2 separate regions of the Homo sapiens genome follow, and region 1 is linked to region 2. A link means that fine-mapping ties the variant in region 2 to the expression of a gene that starts in the linked region. Tissue or cell type: tibial nerve. Region 2 holds a variant in brackets; the other region holds the start of a gene. All regions are shown on one strand. Distances are from middle to middle.

Region 1 (8,183 bases), 47 kb before region 2:
GAGGTCTGGGAGGAGGTACTAGATACCTCTCAGGATGGGTGTGAAGACACTGGTGTCTCGGCCAAGCGCTGTGGCTCATGCCTGTAATCCCAGCACTTTGGGAGGCCAAGGCGGGTGAATCATGAGGTCAGGAGTTCGAGACCATCCTGGCCAACATGGTAAAACCCCGTCTCTACTAAAAATACAAAAAATAGCCGGGCGTGGTGGTGGGCGTCTGTAATCCCAGCTACTTGGGAGGCTGAGGCAGGAGAATTGCTTGAACCCAGGAGGTGGAGGTTGCAGTGAGCCGAGTTCGTGCCACTGCACTCCAGCCTGGGCAACAGAGCAAGACTCCGCCTCTAAATTAAAAAAAAAAAGACACTGGTGTCTCATGTGAATGCCCACTCAAAGACATCTACTGCAGCAGCAACTCTATTAATTGAGTGGACAAGAGGGCACATTCTGCAGACAACAGTCAGTCTTTCCCACAGCTGTGCCATTGCGTGCTCAATGAGCTTATTTATGCAGTGGCCATGGTGGCAGGTGTGGAGGCTCTGTATGGGCTTAGGAACATGGGCTTCCCCTTACCAAAGTGACCCGGCAGAAGAGACCAACACTAAAGCTTTGTTATGGCACCATTCCCTGGGGGAGGGCAGAGGAGCTGGGAACCAGTGTTAAAAAACCTATAAATGTGGCCAGGCACAGTGGCTCATGCCATTAATCTCAGCACTTTGGGAGGCTGAGACGAGCGGATTGCATAAACTCAGGAGCTCGAGACCAGCCTGGGTAATGTGGTGAAATCCCATCTCTACAAAACTTTCAAACATTAGCCGGGTGTGGTGGTGCCTACCTGTAGTTTCAGCTACTCGGGAGGCTGAGGTGGGAGGATGGCTTGAGCCCATGAGGTAGAGGCTGCAGTGAGCCAACATTACACCACTAAACTCCAGCCTGGGCAACAGAGGGAGACCTTGTCTCAAATAATAATTAAAAAAAAAGAAAAAACACAACCTATAACTACTTGGATATGTAAAAGAACAAAATAGAACTTATAGGCTTAAAAAAAAATAAACAAAATGAAAAACTCCTGAAACAGGTTTATCAATAGCCTAAGAGATAATTAGTGACTAGAAGAAAGATCTGAAGAACTATCCAGAACGTGGAACATAAAGAGGACAGATTAAGATGTGATAGAGAGGTTAATAGACATGGAGAAGGGCACAAGACTTTTCTCTTTTTCTTTCACAATCCACAGTAATAAATGTATTTTAGTTGTGACTCACTCCATAGATATGTGTATATTAATAAATACAACTGAAACAAAAGATTCATGAAATAATACAATACACTCCAATATATTATATTCTCGTTCTTTCTCAACACTGGTAACAATCTACTACATTGATTTTATAAGCCACTGTTGGAAAACAACCTACAGTTTGAAAAATATTAGTTGAATAACTACTAATCACACTACAAGATGTAAAGAGTGAGAGAACGAGGTTGAGATAACATTTATTTTTATTTCTTCTTTTTTTGAGACAGGATCTCACTCTGTTACCCCAGGCTGGAGTGCAATGGTATAATGGTTCACTGCAGCCTCCACCTCCTGGGCTCAAGTCCTCCCACCTCAGCCTCCTGAGTAACTGGGATTACAGGCATGCACCACCATGCGTGGCTAATTTTTTTTTTTTTTTTTTTGTATTTTTTGTGGAGATGGGGTTTTACCATGTTGCCCAAGCTGGTCTTGAACTCCTGGATTCAAGCAGTCTGCCCGCCTTGACCTCCTAAATTGCTGAGACTACAGGCATGAACCACTGTGTCCATCCAAGATAACATTTAACAGAGATATTGTCACGTATGATACAACACGGATGAACTTTGGGGACTTTATGCTGGGCAAAATAAGCCAGTCACAAAACGACAAGTATTGTATGATTCTGCTTACAAAAAGTACCTAGACTAGTCAAATTCACAGAGGCAGGATGTGGAATGATGGTTGCCAGGGGCTTAGGAGAGGGAGCATGGGGAATGATTGCTTAAGGGGTACAGAGTTCTAGTTTTGCAAGATGAAGGGAGCTCTAGAGATGGATGATGGTGAGGTCGCACCACAATAGGAATCTTGTTAATACCACTGGATACTTAAAAATGATAGAGAGTAAATTTTATGTGATGTGTATCTTACCACAATAAAAAAGTAAAATTAAATTGAAAAAAAAAAAGTATTGTCTGAGAGTTTTCAAGAATAATGAAAGACACCAATCATCAAATTCAGAAAGCCCAAAGAACTCAAGGCAGGATAAATAAAAAGATAACAGCATGAGCTGGGCATGGTGGCTCACGCCTGTAATCCCAACTTTTTGGGAGGTCGAGGTGGGTGGATTACCTGAGGTCAGGAGTTTGAGACCATCTGGCCAACATGGCAAAACTCTGTCTCTACTGAAAACACAAAAATTAGCTGGGCATGGTGGTGCGTGCCTGTAATCCCAGCGACTCAGGAGGCTGAGGCAGGAGAATCGCTTGAACATGGGAGGCGGAGGTTGCAGTGAGCTGAGATGGCGTCACTGCACTCCAGACTGGGGGACAGAGCGAGACTCCGTCTCAAAAAAAAAAAAAAAAAAAGATACAGCATGGTAAAACTGTAGAACATGAGAAGAGGGAGAAAAGACCAACAACCTATGAAGGAACGATGTTAAGATTGTCACTGGACTCCTGAGGAGCAATGAGGGGGAACAGGCAAACAGTGGATGGCAATCAAGTGTGCTGAGAGAGGACAGCTGTCATTCAAGCAAGCAAGCCAAAATATCTGTCAAGAACAAGGGCAAGGCCAGGCGCAGTGGCTCATGCCTGTAATCCTAGCACTTTGGCGGCTGAAGCAGGAGGATCACTTGAGCCCAGGAGTTTGAAACCAGCCTGGGCAACATAGTGAGATTTTACAGAAAATAAAAAAATTAGCTGGGCGTGGTGGTGCATGCTTTTAGTCCCAGCTACACCGGAGTCTGAGGTGGGAGGATTGTTTCAGCCTGGGAGATACAGGTTGCAGTGAGCCACGATCATGCCACTGCACTCCAGCATGGGCAACAGAGCAAGACCTCATCTCCAAATAAATAAATAAATAAAATAAAAACAACAAAAGGCAAAAATGAATCCATTTGCAGATGAGCAGAAACTGAGAGGATTTGCACCAACGAAGCTACAAAAAAATAAAATTTAAAGGATTTACCTCAGGCAAAAGGAGAGTGATCCTGTTGGTGAAAGCTGAGATGCAAGAAGAAAAGGTGGATAAAAATGGTAATTGTGTGGCTGAATCTAAACTAATGTTGACTGAATAAAACAATTTAGTAATGTCTCTTGGGGTTACAGTGGCAAAGGTTAAACTTAACATACACTACATTAAGGTGTATAATTTAGAGGATGGGTGATTAAAGTACTCCAAAGTCTTTATATTTTAAGGAAACAGGGTAAAGACATTTTTACAAATATTTAAAGATATTGGACTTTCACAAGGTAAGTATGCATGCCCAAAAGTTTGAAGTAACCACTAAAACTTAGAAATAGAGTATACAGGTGAAGAAAATCAGAATGAGAATAAAAATAAACCCTAAAGAAGAAAGGAAAGGGGAAAAAAACCAGGCAGGACAAATAGAAATAACAAAATACAATGGTAGAAATAATTCCAGATATATCAGTAAATATAATAAATGTAAATGGACTAAATGCTCCAGTTAAAATACAAAGACTATTCTTTTAAAAAACCTTTTTATCATGAAAAATTTCAAGTATACAGCAAAGTGGGAGAAACAGTACAAGAAAACCATATACCTGCGATGTAGAGTCAGCCATTGCTAGCAATTTGCCACATTTGTCTCACCTATATGGGTATGTATAGGAGACTATTAAGAACACCTATTTAACTTCCATAGTAAACATAATATAATGAAATACAATTTAAACGGTAATCATGATGTAGAGTATCCACTTTTGAGGTCAAGCAGATCTGGATTCTCCAGCAATTTTTAATTATTTAACTTACGTGTGTGGTTATTTATTCAAAAGATGTCTCTTCACTAGGCTATAGTAAAAGGATTGGAATCAGGTTCGCTTTTCTGATCATTGTATTTCTAAATATTTGTTGCATAAACAAATAGAATTTACTAGTAAAGAATTCAGCACAGTGCCAGTTGCATAGTAAACATTTAACGTAGAGTAGCTTGTATTTATTGTAGTTGCTGTTGTTATTGGAAGCATTCAGTAGAGTGATACAAAATAAATAAGCAATAATTGGTAGTTTATTATATTTATAATTATTATTTACAAGACGTCACAGTGCCTAGCCCATATCACTCACCCATAAACATTATACTTATACTAAGTACTTTCACTATTATTCAAAGTCTCTAACAGTGCCTGGCACTACATAAGCAAGAGAAAAGTGGAAGTTTATTCTAATTGTTATTATTGAATAAAGCACTTAACACGAAGCTGGCCCCCAGCGGGCCCTTAATAGTTTCCGCGGTGGCTGTCGTAGCTGGACTACAGACCCCGCCTCCTGAGCGGCCCGAAGCCCCGCCCCTTACTGCCCCGCAGTCCCGCCCCCGTGGCTTGTGCCGCGCCTGCGCACTGTCCCGGAAGGGGCTCTACGCGCGCAGCTTTAGTCCCCGCCCCTGGAGCCGGCGGCGCAGGGCGCAGCTTCCCGCCGCCAGAGCGGGCCAGCCTGCTGCGTGCGTGCGTGTGTACGACTCTGCGTGCGTGCGTGCGTGCGTGCGTGCCGTCAGCTCGCCGGGCACCGCGGCCTCGCCCTCGCCCTCCGCCCCTGCGCCTGCACCGCGTAGACCGACCCCCCCCCAGCGCGCCCACCCGGTAGAGGACCCCCGCCCGTGCCCCGACCGGTCCCCGCCTTTTTGTAAAACTTAAAGCGGGCGCAGCATTAACGCTTCCCGCCCCGGTGACCTCTCAGGGGTCTCCCCGCCAAAGGTGCTCCGCCGCTAAGGAACATGGCGAAGGTGGAGCAGGTCCTGAGCCTCGAGCCGCAGCACGAGCTCAAATTCCGAGGTAAGCCCCAGAGGCCGCCACCTTCCTGCCCGCGGCCTCCGCCCCAGTGCTGGAAGGACGGAGCCCGGCGCGGCGGGTGACGTCGGCCCTCGTCCCCACCCCGACGGCGCTGTCGCGGGGGGCGGCGAGGCCGGGCCGGGCCTTGGCGCTCGCCGCGCTCCCCAGAACTGCCCGGAGTGGCCGGGACCCGAGAGGGCTGGTGCGGGAGCCGGGGCCTGCGCCTCCTCCCCGACCCCCAGCCTCCTGGGACTTGCCTTCGAGGCACTTGTCACTTTGTAACTTACCAGTTTGTGATCCTCTCTAGTGTGAGCCTCCGCCGCTGCCTTTGCCTAGAAGTTTCTTCCCCTGCTCCGTGACAGTGTTGACCTCAGGGCTTAGTTGAGGTGTCAGCTGCTCAGAGAGGCCTGCTGTGACCACCCAGCCACCGTGCACACCTGCTGTCATTCCCTATTCCGTCACTGTTTCGTGGTCAGCACGGCACTTTTCATACCCAAAATCACTGTTTCAATACTAGAAGGGAAACTGCATGAGGACAGGCTCTTGTCAGTTCGCTGCTGTGTACCCAGCACACATTATACGCCTAGTAAATAAATACCTGTTGAACCAACAGATGAACATGTTGAACCAACAAATGAACCTCCTCAGGACTTCTGATGGGATTGGGCCCATTTTCCTTTCACTGCGTCCCTCATGCTGTCTCCTGGTTGCGGTGCAAGGAGGCTGCCACGGTGCTGGGATCCTTTTTCTCCGCAGAGCTGTCTGGAGCAACACCTGCGGCGATGGGAAGCCATGACCCTGGTTTCTCCCAGATACTATTACCTCTGTAATTTGTGCCTTTATGTTTTCTATGTTGTTACTTTTGTTTTTTTTTTTTTTTTCCTACCTTCACCAGGGCCACGAGGTAAAAGTTCTTGTCTGACATGCTCATTCTTTCTTTTTGCGTGTATCCAGTGATGTGGGAGGCTCTGGGGAGGTGATGGATGCACAAGACAGATAAGGCCTCTGCTCTCACAGAGCTTACCTTCCGACGAGGACAGACAAACCAACACACAAGATCATTGCAGATAGTGCTAAGTGCTGTGTAGGAAATGGAACAGTCTGACTCCATGGAAGCGTACTTTAGATTGGAAGGCCGGGTCTCCACTATATCGCTAGCACCGGACTCACAGTAGATGCTCAGTTGGTATTTATGAATGAATGAATGGCCAGAGGCTCTCCAGTTTATATGTCCTATTGGGAAGTAGTGTAGGGTAACTTACCCAAAGTTACCCAGTTGGCAAATGGTACATTTGAACCCAGACTTCAGAGTTCACGCTCTTAACCGTTTTGCTGTCTGATCGCTGGGAAATACTCCAGAACGGTGGCTGTCACTTTGCCTTCCAAGTTAACAATGTGAAATAACTCTGAATTTACAGAGAACCAAAGGCTTTCCAATTAAAATGAAAAAACCGAAAAACCCCACCAAACCTACCGTGGATTGTAATTCCAGGATAGTACTTGAGCTTTCATGATGTTCTCATGGCCTTCTGGGGATGCCAGATTGGGAAAGAAGTCCAGGTAGCTAAAGTGAAAATAGTGAGCCTTAGTTTCCACTTGAGTTGTCTGAAGTTCTTTCTCTATCTGGGAGGCCTGGCTTGGCTTCTCCTGATAATTGGTGGGTTCATTCGGTTAGTCCACAAACATTTACTGAGTACCTGATCTGTGTGTCAGATACCCAGAGAAGCCAAGTTATATCAGCTGTACTCTCCTATTTTCCCTCAACCTCCTCCCAGTACTTTAGGGAAGGGGGCAGATGAGAATAACAGCCAGGACAGGACAATGATGTAGGGTAGTCCAGAGTGCTCCAGGAGCATTGAGGAGGTCAACTCCTGAAAGAGGTGTCATTTGAGCTCAGTTATAAAGGTCGAGTAGAAGAAGGCTCAAAGAAGGAAAGGGTGGGGAACATTTCAGACAGAGGAAATTGCATGCACAGAGGCACAAACACTGAGATGACTGGGCTCCTTTGGGATGCCACTAGTAGTTTTTTTTTTTTTGAGATAGAGTTCTCACTCTGTCACCCAGGCTGGAGTGCAGAGGCGCCATCTCACTGCAGCCTCTGCCTCCCAGGTTCAAGTGATTCTCCTGCCTCAGCCTCTTGAGTAGCTGGGATTACATACAGGCATGTGCCACTACGCCTGGCTAAATTTTGTATTTTTAGTAGAGACGGTGTTTCACTATGTTGGCCAGGCTGGTCTCAAACTCCGGACCTCAAGTGATCCGCCCTCCTTGGCCTCTCAAAGTGCTGGGATTACAGGCGTGAGCCCGGCCACCACTAGTGGTTCTGAATGACAGCAACAAAGAACATTTGTTGTGGTTGCCTGGCAAGATGGGAGACAAGGCTGGTGAGTAGACAAGAGTCAGATCTCAGTCCCTTTATGCATAGATGCAGCCAGTGTCCAAGTTAAAATTGTGTTGCTTCTCCTTGAGCAGTCCTTCCTTGCATTAACTTTCTGAAAACCCCCAAATCCCAGTACAAACTCTGTTGTCTAATATGTTATGGAAAGAGGCACTCATTTGAGAAAATTTAAGATTTTGTTCAATTGTTTTACTGAAAGATGTGTGACCTTAGGCCACTTCACTCCTCAAAGCCTGGGGTGGTTATTCGGTCAATGGGGATGATGCTCGTGTCCACGTTGCCTCTTGTAGAACGTGTTTAGAAGGAATGACATGGCTGTTAGTGGCTTTGTAAGTGCATAGTACTATACAGAGATTAGACAACCACTTAACTACTTAAGTGGTTTCATCACTTCTGTACCTGAAAGGTGTGGCAGAGAATAGCGATCATTCTGGCCCTGGATTGGCCAAAGTAATTATGCCAAAGTCACTGGATATTTTTGCTAGGGAAGTGGTCCAAGAGAAGTGGTACCAAATTGTTGAAGGCCTCTGGCTCATAACTTTAGAAGAGACATCTGTGTGTGTTCTTAAATGACGTCATGAGGTGTGTTGTTTGTTTGTTTTAAACTGAATGCTAAGACAGTACAATTAATAGAGACTGAATACCCTGACTTAGAGATAATTCATTTCAGGATGAGAAATGGCACATTTAACTGGTTTCTTCCAGGTTACTCAGGGTGACGACTCTGATTTCTGGTCGTTCACCTAGATGAACCTCTGAG
Region 2 (8,183 bases):
TTGTTTTTTTTTTTGTTTTTTCTTTTTTTTTAAGAGACTGGGTCTTGCTCTGTCACCCAGGCTGGAGTTCAGTGGTGCTATCATAGCTCTCTGCAGCCTCCATCTCCCAGGCCTAAGCAGTCCTTCCACCTCAATCTCAGCCTCTCAAGTAGCTGGGACTATAGGCTACCATGCCCAGCTAATTTTTTTGTGGTAGAGATGGGGTCTTGCTTTGTCGCCCAGGTTGGTCTTGAACTCAAGTGATCCTCCCGCCTTGGCCTCCCAAAGTGCTGGTGTTACAGTTGTGAGCCACCATGCCTGGCAGCCCTTATCTTTTTATCTTGAAAAAGGAGACGTGCTGCTTGGATGGATTGTTGTGAGTAGTAAATGGGAGCACTAAGGAGAATTTGCCTTCTATGGTACCTATTACACAGGAGGCATGAGTAAAGATTCTTTTCCTTTCTTTCCTTCTTGGGCCATCATGAAAGTATTGGGGATGAAGAAGCTGAGGGATGATGGAGAAATGGAAAGGAAGGACCTGTTTTCCCTTGGGGCATTCTTAGAACCCAGGCAGAGCTCTGGACACAGTGCTCTTGGCTGTACTTTTTTACTCCCACTGCCTCTAGGAAGGTGATGAATGGGAAGGGGCAGGCAGAGCTTCCTGGGGCTGTTTTTTGGGGGTGTGTTCTGTTCTCTGGACCCATTGGTTTTTGTATTTCATCTAAATAGCTTCTCTAAAAATTAGCATTTTCCTTGGATTGCTGTCATGTGAGCATCAGGGATCTTTACAAATAAACCTTGTTCCTCCTCAGAGCTCTCCAGAGTGGTAGACTTGGGAGTGGTGCAATAGCTGTTCACAGCTGGGAGAACAGAGTCTCAAGGGTAAGACGGTGTTTACTACTAGATCTGTGCCCTGCCAAAAATCTAAGAGTAGTTCAGGTCAAAGTTCTCTTCTTTCCTAAACTGAAAAATACCAGAGCATGATTTTGTCACAGCCAAGGAAGACCTGAAATTCTTAAAACTGAATTCACTTTAATTTTAGAAAGGGAACATTAATCTAACAGTGAATCCCAGCTCCAAAGAAGGTTGACAGTCCCTGTCCAGGAAGGTTCACAGAGCATGTAAAGACATTGGCTCTTTACTTTAAAATGTGTGTTTTCGTTATTGCAATCTTAGGGGCAGGAAAAAAACACATTGGGAATTTGGCTTTCAGAAAAAGCATTGACCTGCCAGTCTGGTCATTTGTCCCTGAGGTTAAGTGTCAAGCCCAGGTCGGTAAATGTTCCAGGTCTGTCTGTAGGAAAGGTCAGCTCTTGCCAGCTCAGTGATGCCAGAGAAAGAGTTATGTTGATAAAAGGTTTACTCTCTGACAGTTATTGAATTTTGTCCTGAAGAAGTCTCCCAGCAAGGCTTCCTTGTAGCTCAGGGCCTTCAGGTGGGTCTTGTGGGCAGTGAAGCTGTCTGGGTGACTAGGGACACCAGTGCATTTAAGTCCAATGCATGGTTAGGTCTCAGTGGACTTTCTCTGTTCCCATGGTGAAGAGTGCTACTGCATCCCTAAGATGGATGGGGGAGGTTGGTATTTCTATCCTGTTTTGTGAATGGTTCCATTAGCTTTGTCGTGGGGCCTGGGTGCCAGATATAAATCTAGCTCATATTGGAGTGACTAGTGTGGTGAAAGGGGTGCTAGACTGCACTTGTAGTCAAGTCTTGGCTCTTTGTCCCAGTGTTGCCACTTCTTAACATTGTGACTTTGAGGGAGCCACTTCACTTTGTGGAATCCCAGATTCTTCATTTGTAGACCACGGCTATCCTGCTTTCTATCTGCTGCTGGCTGTGGTTGATTGTGTGGCTCTAGAGGAAGCACCTGGGAAGTCCTAAGTTGGGGTTTCAAGGCAAGAGAATGCTGATGAGGGCCCAGCAGAAAGGTGGTAGAAGCCCTGCTGGTGAGAAGCATAAGACTTGTACTGTCAGAGGACAAGGCACCAGTCCTTTGTGGTGGCTGTGAACTTAGGTCCCCACACCAACTGCCTGGGTTTGAGTCTGCACTCCACCAAGGTGTAACCTTGGGCAAATTCACCTCTCTGTGTTCATTCTTTTCATGTGAAAAGTAGACACCAGAATAGCCCCTCTCCCCCAACAATAGTACCTACTTTTTAAGGATTAAATGAGATGATGGTAAACCTAAGGGACAGAGCCCAGTTTCTGGCACATGGAGATACTCAGTCCATGCCCACTGTTGTGGTCAAGGCCACAGTAGGCTTTCCCTGCATGTGAAGTTGTCTCAGGGAACTTAACTAGATGTGTGGGTTAGCCAAAGCCTTGTAGCAAAGTAACATATTTTAAAGCAGCCATCATTTGATAGGAGTAGGCCCAGCTGTACTCTAGGAAGTAGGCTGAAGGGAGCCACTTGGGGTAGGAAGGCACCTCCCTCCATGCAGTGGGTGTGACTCATCCACAGGATCCTCTGTGTGAGATTTCTCTAGGTTCTTAGGGAAAAAAAAGGGGGAGTATAAGCTGATACCGTTTTCCCTGCTGTGTGAGTGTCCTGATTGTAAAAATTTTCTAGCTTTATGTTGGCAAAATTGTATTTCAAGGATTACCTTGATTAGCTATATGAGAAATGGGTTGGAGAGAAGCTACAACAGTTCCTTAAATGTTCTTAAACATCTTAGATTATTCTATTTAATTCCTGAAGAGATCATTTGGATATGTTTTCTTGAGCAAAACAGGCAGATGGTGTTGCTACCCAGTTTCCCAATTCTGTAAGGCCTGTAGCAGACATTTACGGTAGGCTTGCAGTAGTGAAAGATCCATGGACTAGGAATCAGAAGACTGGGTCCTCGGCCTTATTCCCAGCTCTGTCATGCGTGATTTTGTGGCTCTTAGGTTGGTGACCTGCAAAATGGAGATGTTGGTCATCCTTGCTTACTTCACCAGGGGCGTCCATCCTAAGACATAAGAGAATGCCGGTAAATTGCTTTACAACCAAAGTACAAGTATTAGCATAATAAATGGCACTGACAACCAAGCTCTGACCCTCCTAATGAAATATTTTCTTTCTCAGTGATGTTACAGCCTTTCGATTATGATCCCAATGAGAAAAGTAAACACAAGTTTATGGTTCAGTCTATGTTTGCTCCAACTGACACTTCAGATATGGAAGCAGTAGTAAGTACTGAATGCTTCTTATTTTTTTCAGTAA[C/T]AATAATTTAAAAAACCAATTAGATATGGAATTGTGGGTGCATGCATTTCAAAATATGTCAAAATTATTTAAAAGGGAATAGTTTTTTTTCAAGGAGGTTTGTACTTTATCTACCTTTATGGTTTTTCTAAAACTTTGAGGAATAATTTTAACATTTTTTGTGACTTTCTAGAAGGCTGTTCTTTTCTGACTTTCCTGAGCTCAGTGTGCTTCAGCAGCTCCTTGCACTGGTGGATGGTGTCTTGCATGGTTAGGGATTGCCTTCTTTCGCCTCTCCTTTCTGCCCCGACAGAAAAGGATACTTTTCATTGTCCCGCCTTTTTCTTACTTGTCTTCTCATCCCCCACAAACTCAAGAGCCATGTGAGAGTGTCAGTGCTGAATGTCCTCACCCATTTAGACATACATGTTTGTGGCTTTGTTCTAGTAAATATGCTTATTTATTTTCCCCCCTGCTTAAATCTATGTTTAACTTTTCTCTAATTTTGATAAAATTAAGATGACTTCATTTTTATAAAAGAAATAAGTGATGTTAGTGATGGTTTTGGAAAAAAAAAAAAGAGTATAATGGACATTCCCTCCAAAACGAGCTTTTTATACATTTGAATAAGTCCATTGGCATTCTGGGGCTGGGAGTTGAATTGAAATCTACAATACAACCCACAGCCCCAGCAGGGACAGATGCGCTTGTCCTTACAGTTCAGGAAAGCAGGACAGGGTTGCCTCATACCACTTGCATTGCTCTCCAGTTTTGGCCCGCCCAAAGGGGAGCCCCGAGTCATCCACGGCAGGTCTGCCCACCTGAGTCCGCTGTTCATCACACCATACTGCAGTTCTCCTCTGTCTGAGTTTCATACCAAGGGCAACTCAGGCCAAGACCACCCCATGCCCTATGTCACCACATAGCCTTTTGTTTAAGTTCTGGAGAAGCATCTCCGCTGATGTTTCACTTGTAGGCAGAAAATGAAGGAGGAGGCCAGATATTTTTGACTTTTAGAGAGATCAGTGATAATAGGCTGTCTTCTTTTCATAAGAACAATTCTTATGAAAACTTTCTCTGATTTTCTGCAACATGATGTGTTACTTCATGTTAATTTGTGTGATCAAAGAAACATGGCAGATAGAAAATAATGGAAGATCCAAGGGTGTGTTCTGTTTGGCTTCTGCTGCATGGCATAGTGAAAAGAGCATGGGCTTGGGTGTTTTCGAGCTGAGTTCTTCCTTTTACTGACGTTGTGGCTGGGAGCAGGTTTTATTAACTCTGTTGAGGTTTTGATCATTTGTAAAATAGGGATAAAAATGCAGCTCACACAGTGGTGAGTATGAAGTGTGCCTGTGTAAGTGCCTGGTGGGTCCAGTGTCTGACACTTGCTTATCAGAGTGTGTAATAGGCCAGTCACTGCATATCTAGTAAAGGGTCATTTTAGTTCCTTGTATGATGATATAAGTTTAAATTTTTTTTATATAAAATGTACATTGTGGGAAATTTTGGAAATACACAAATGAAAAAAATTTAAAGTGACCCATAGTTCTTTTCTACTAGGCCTAACCATCATTAATGAGAAATGAGAGCTTTGTGTTTTTCTTCCTTTTTTTTTTTTTTTTTTTTTTTGGAGACATGATTTTACTGTGTCACCTAGGCTGGAATGCAGTGGAGTGATCTCAGCTCGCTGCAGCCTCCACCTCCTGGGCTCAAGTGATCCTCCCACCTCAGCCTCCCAAGTAGCTGGGACCACAGGAGCGCACCACCATGCCTGGCTAATTTTTTTGTAGAGACAGGTTTTCTCCATGTTGCCCAAGCTGGTCTCAAACTCCTGGACTCAAGCGATCTGCCCACCTCAGCCTCCCAAAGTGGTAGGATTACAGGCATGAGCCACTGCCCCAGCCTGCTTTTTCTTTATTTTAAAATGTTTTTCTTTTTATTGTGATATACAGAAAGTTGAAAAAATAGCATGGTGACCACTCATATAACTTTTACCTAGATTTACATTTGTTAACATGTTGTGACATTTGCTTCCTTTCTGTCACAAACTTTCTTATTTGCTTGAGATGCAAATTTATGACACTTCACCCCTAAATGCTTCAGAGCAAGGACAGTCTCTTATATAGTCATGATACTATTAATCATAGCTGAAAAAAGTAACTTCAATTCAGTATTATTATGTGATAAATTCATATTCATTATTTCCTAGTTGTTCCAAAAGTGACCTTTAGTAGAGGACACCCAAACCTTTTTGTTTTTCAAACTTTGAACTTTTTTTTTTTTTTTTTTTTTTTTTGAGACAAAGTCTTGCTTTGTCACCAAGGCTGAAGTGCAGTGGTGCAGTCATGGCTTGACCTCCACCTCAGCTGTTCGAGTAACTAAAACTACAGGCATGCCACCATGCCGGCTATTTTTTTATTTTTTTATAGAGTTGGGGTCTCACTATGTTGCCCAGGCTGGTCTTGAACTTCTGGGCTCAAGTGATCCTCCTGCCTCTGCCTCTCGAAGTGCTGGGATTACAGGTGTGAGCCACTGCACCCTGCCCAAACTTTGAACTTCTTTTTTTTTTTAAGAGTCCAGGCCAGTTGACTTACAGAATGTCCTGTATTCTGGATTTATTTGATTATTTCCTCATGATTAAATTCAAGTTAAATGTGTTTTGGCAAGAATATTCCATAGTTGGTATTTCATACCAGGTTGTTCCGCTGTTGGTGATGCTGTTTGATCACTTGGTTAAGATGGTGACTGCCAGCTCTCTCCACTGTCATAGCACAAAGCACATTTGCCCCTGTGGTTAATAGGTAATCTGTGATACTCTGAGTCATCTGATACTTTGAGACCATGTGAATATCCTGCTCGCCAGCAGTCTTTCACCTGGTGCTTTTAGCATTCAGTGATGATCCTTGCTTGATATTTTTTTTGACTTATGTGGTAGGCACACGTGTACAGGTGTGTGTGTGCAGAGGAGCAGACTTCAGTATTCTTTGCGATTTTTTCACTTAACATTCTGGACATTTTCTCCATCTAACTGAGTGCTCTTCAGCATCATTTGAGTGGCAGCATGCTGTTCCGTTTAGTGGATCTGCCATAATTTTTGTGGCAGTCCCCTAGGGTCAGATGTATAGATTGCTTCCCACTTTTGGTTCTTGGTACCTGTGTTACAGTAGCTGCCTCTTGCATGGTTTTGGGAAGGGTTGAGGGCATGGAGGGTGGGGGTGCCTTCTTTTTCTATATCATAACCTTGCTGCTATCCTGGTCTGTAATCCTAGAATACCCTGGAATTCCCATCTTCTGCTGCCAAAAGGAGAAGTAATCAGGAGCGTATCCTCTTAGGACATGGGATTTAGCTAGGAAGGTGCTCTCACTACAGCCTGGAGGGATGGAGATGGGTCTTGGGGTAGACACAGCCCACACACTGCCACAGTGACAGAGGAGGGATTTGGTAATGAATGTGTTCCGTTGGTAGTTGGCAGAGTGGTTCTGAAACTAGTCCCAGATAGTATGCGCTTATACTTTCTAGATATGCCTTTAAAATAAGTTTCATTTTCTCATTTTAATTTAATTTATTATTTTTGAGACAGAGTCTCTCAGTGTCCCCCAGCCTGGAGTACAGTGGCATGATCATGGCTCACTGCAGCCTCCACCTCCTGGGCCCAAGTGATCCTCCCTCCTCAGCCTCCTGAGTAGCTGGGACCACAGGCATGTGCCTCCATGCTTAGCTAATTTTTTAATTTTTTTGTAGAGATGACGTCTCCTTACGTTGTGCAGACTGGTCTCAAACTGCTGGGCTCAACCAGTCCCTCCACCTCAGCCTCCCAAAGTGCTGGGATTACAGGCATAAGCCACCATGCCCAGCTGAAAACAAGTTTTATTTTCATAAGGAGAGCCAAGGTTACCTGGTCATCCAGACATTGTTTAGAGGATTCCTTTTTGTTCAGTGGTGGGCCTGTCCCACAGAGTAGCAACATGGGGAGCATTGGTTGACTTTGAGGAGTCAGGCAGCAAGACTTCAGGGTTTATGAAGTGTAATATTTTGAGAAAGTGAGTGTATTTAATCTTGTCATGTTACAAATATTGAAATCTCAGCAGACTTCAGTTCTTTATTTGATATACATCAGGGCTTTCTCATTAAGAGTATTTTTCTGAAATTGTCAGTTATAGGAAGAAAGTTATTCTTCCAGCAGGTTTATAATATCTTGATTATTAAATTTAAATTGTTTTAGTGGAAGGAGGCAAAACCGGAAGACCTTATGGATTCAAAACTTAGATGTGTGTTTGAATTGCCAGCAGAGAATGATAAACCAGTAAGTATATTTATAGTTAACAATAATTGAATGTTGTAAGCTGATACTTATTTGCATACCATTTCCTGCAAAACCAAGATTTAAGTTGGCAAATTATTTTCCTTTATCTGATGTCTGAAGAAAAAAAATAAGCTGAAGTCAGCAAATAAGTGGGCCTTTATGAAATCAGCCTTTGAAAAACTCACGGAAAGACAACTGATTGACAGTGTTTCCCCTTGAAAAGTGCAGCCCGATGGCCATTGAGATGTCATAAATCCTGAAGAGCTTCTGTGGCCTGGCAAAGGTATAGGTTGCTGTTAAACAGTGGGTGAGAGTGAAAGAGGGAACAATTTGCCCTTTATCATGGTGGTTGATGGACGTGTGGGAAGCTTTCAAGTTCTCTTGTTTTACAAAGTGCCCTGTCAGCCTCCCTACCCCTTTTACCCTATCTACCTCTTCAATCAAAGGCTGCTTTTAGATGAGGATTTCTCAGCCTCAACACTGTTGATATTTGGGGCAAATCCTTGGTGGTGGTGGAGGTTGCCCTGTGTACTGTAGGGTGTTTTATTAATAGCAGCATCCCTGGCTTCTGCCCTCTTGATACTGGTAGTACTTCCCAGTTGTGACAACTAAAAATGTCTCCAGATATTGCCACATGTGTCCTGGAGGGCAATATCAACCCCCATTGAGAGTGATCCCATTCCGGTGTTGCCTGTGGGGAGAAGGAAGGAGCC

What was found. PIP is the estimated chance that this variant, and not a neighbour inherited with it, causes the effect.
Region 1: it holds the start of VAPB, and the variant in region 2 is fine-mapped to the expression of VAPB in tibial nerve (GTEx, PIP above 0.99). The same link has a PIP of 0.9 or more in stomach, tibial artery and whole blood.

Annotation. Positions count from the first base shown.
Region 1 is chr20:58,384,490-58,392,672 of GRCh38, forward strand. VAPB (VAMP associated protein B and C) reads left to right here and starts at 4,740. Exons shown (of 6, transcript NM_004738.5): 1 at 4,740-5,028. The coding sequence starts at 4,971. RefSeq lists silencers at 4,449-4,888, 5,149-5,268.
Region 2 is chr20:58,431,556-58,439,738 of GRCh38, forward strand. VAPB (VAMP associated protein B and C) reads left to right here. Exons shown (of 6, transcript NM_004738.5): 3 at 3,047-3,150; 4 at 7,390-7,470. Among named protein-coding and RNA genes, the nearest start is that of VAPB, 46 kb to the left of the region's middle. The variant C/T (reference allele first, on the strand shown) is at 3,185.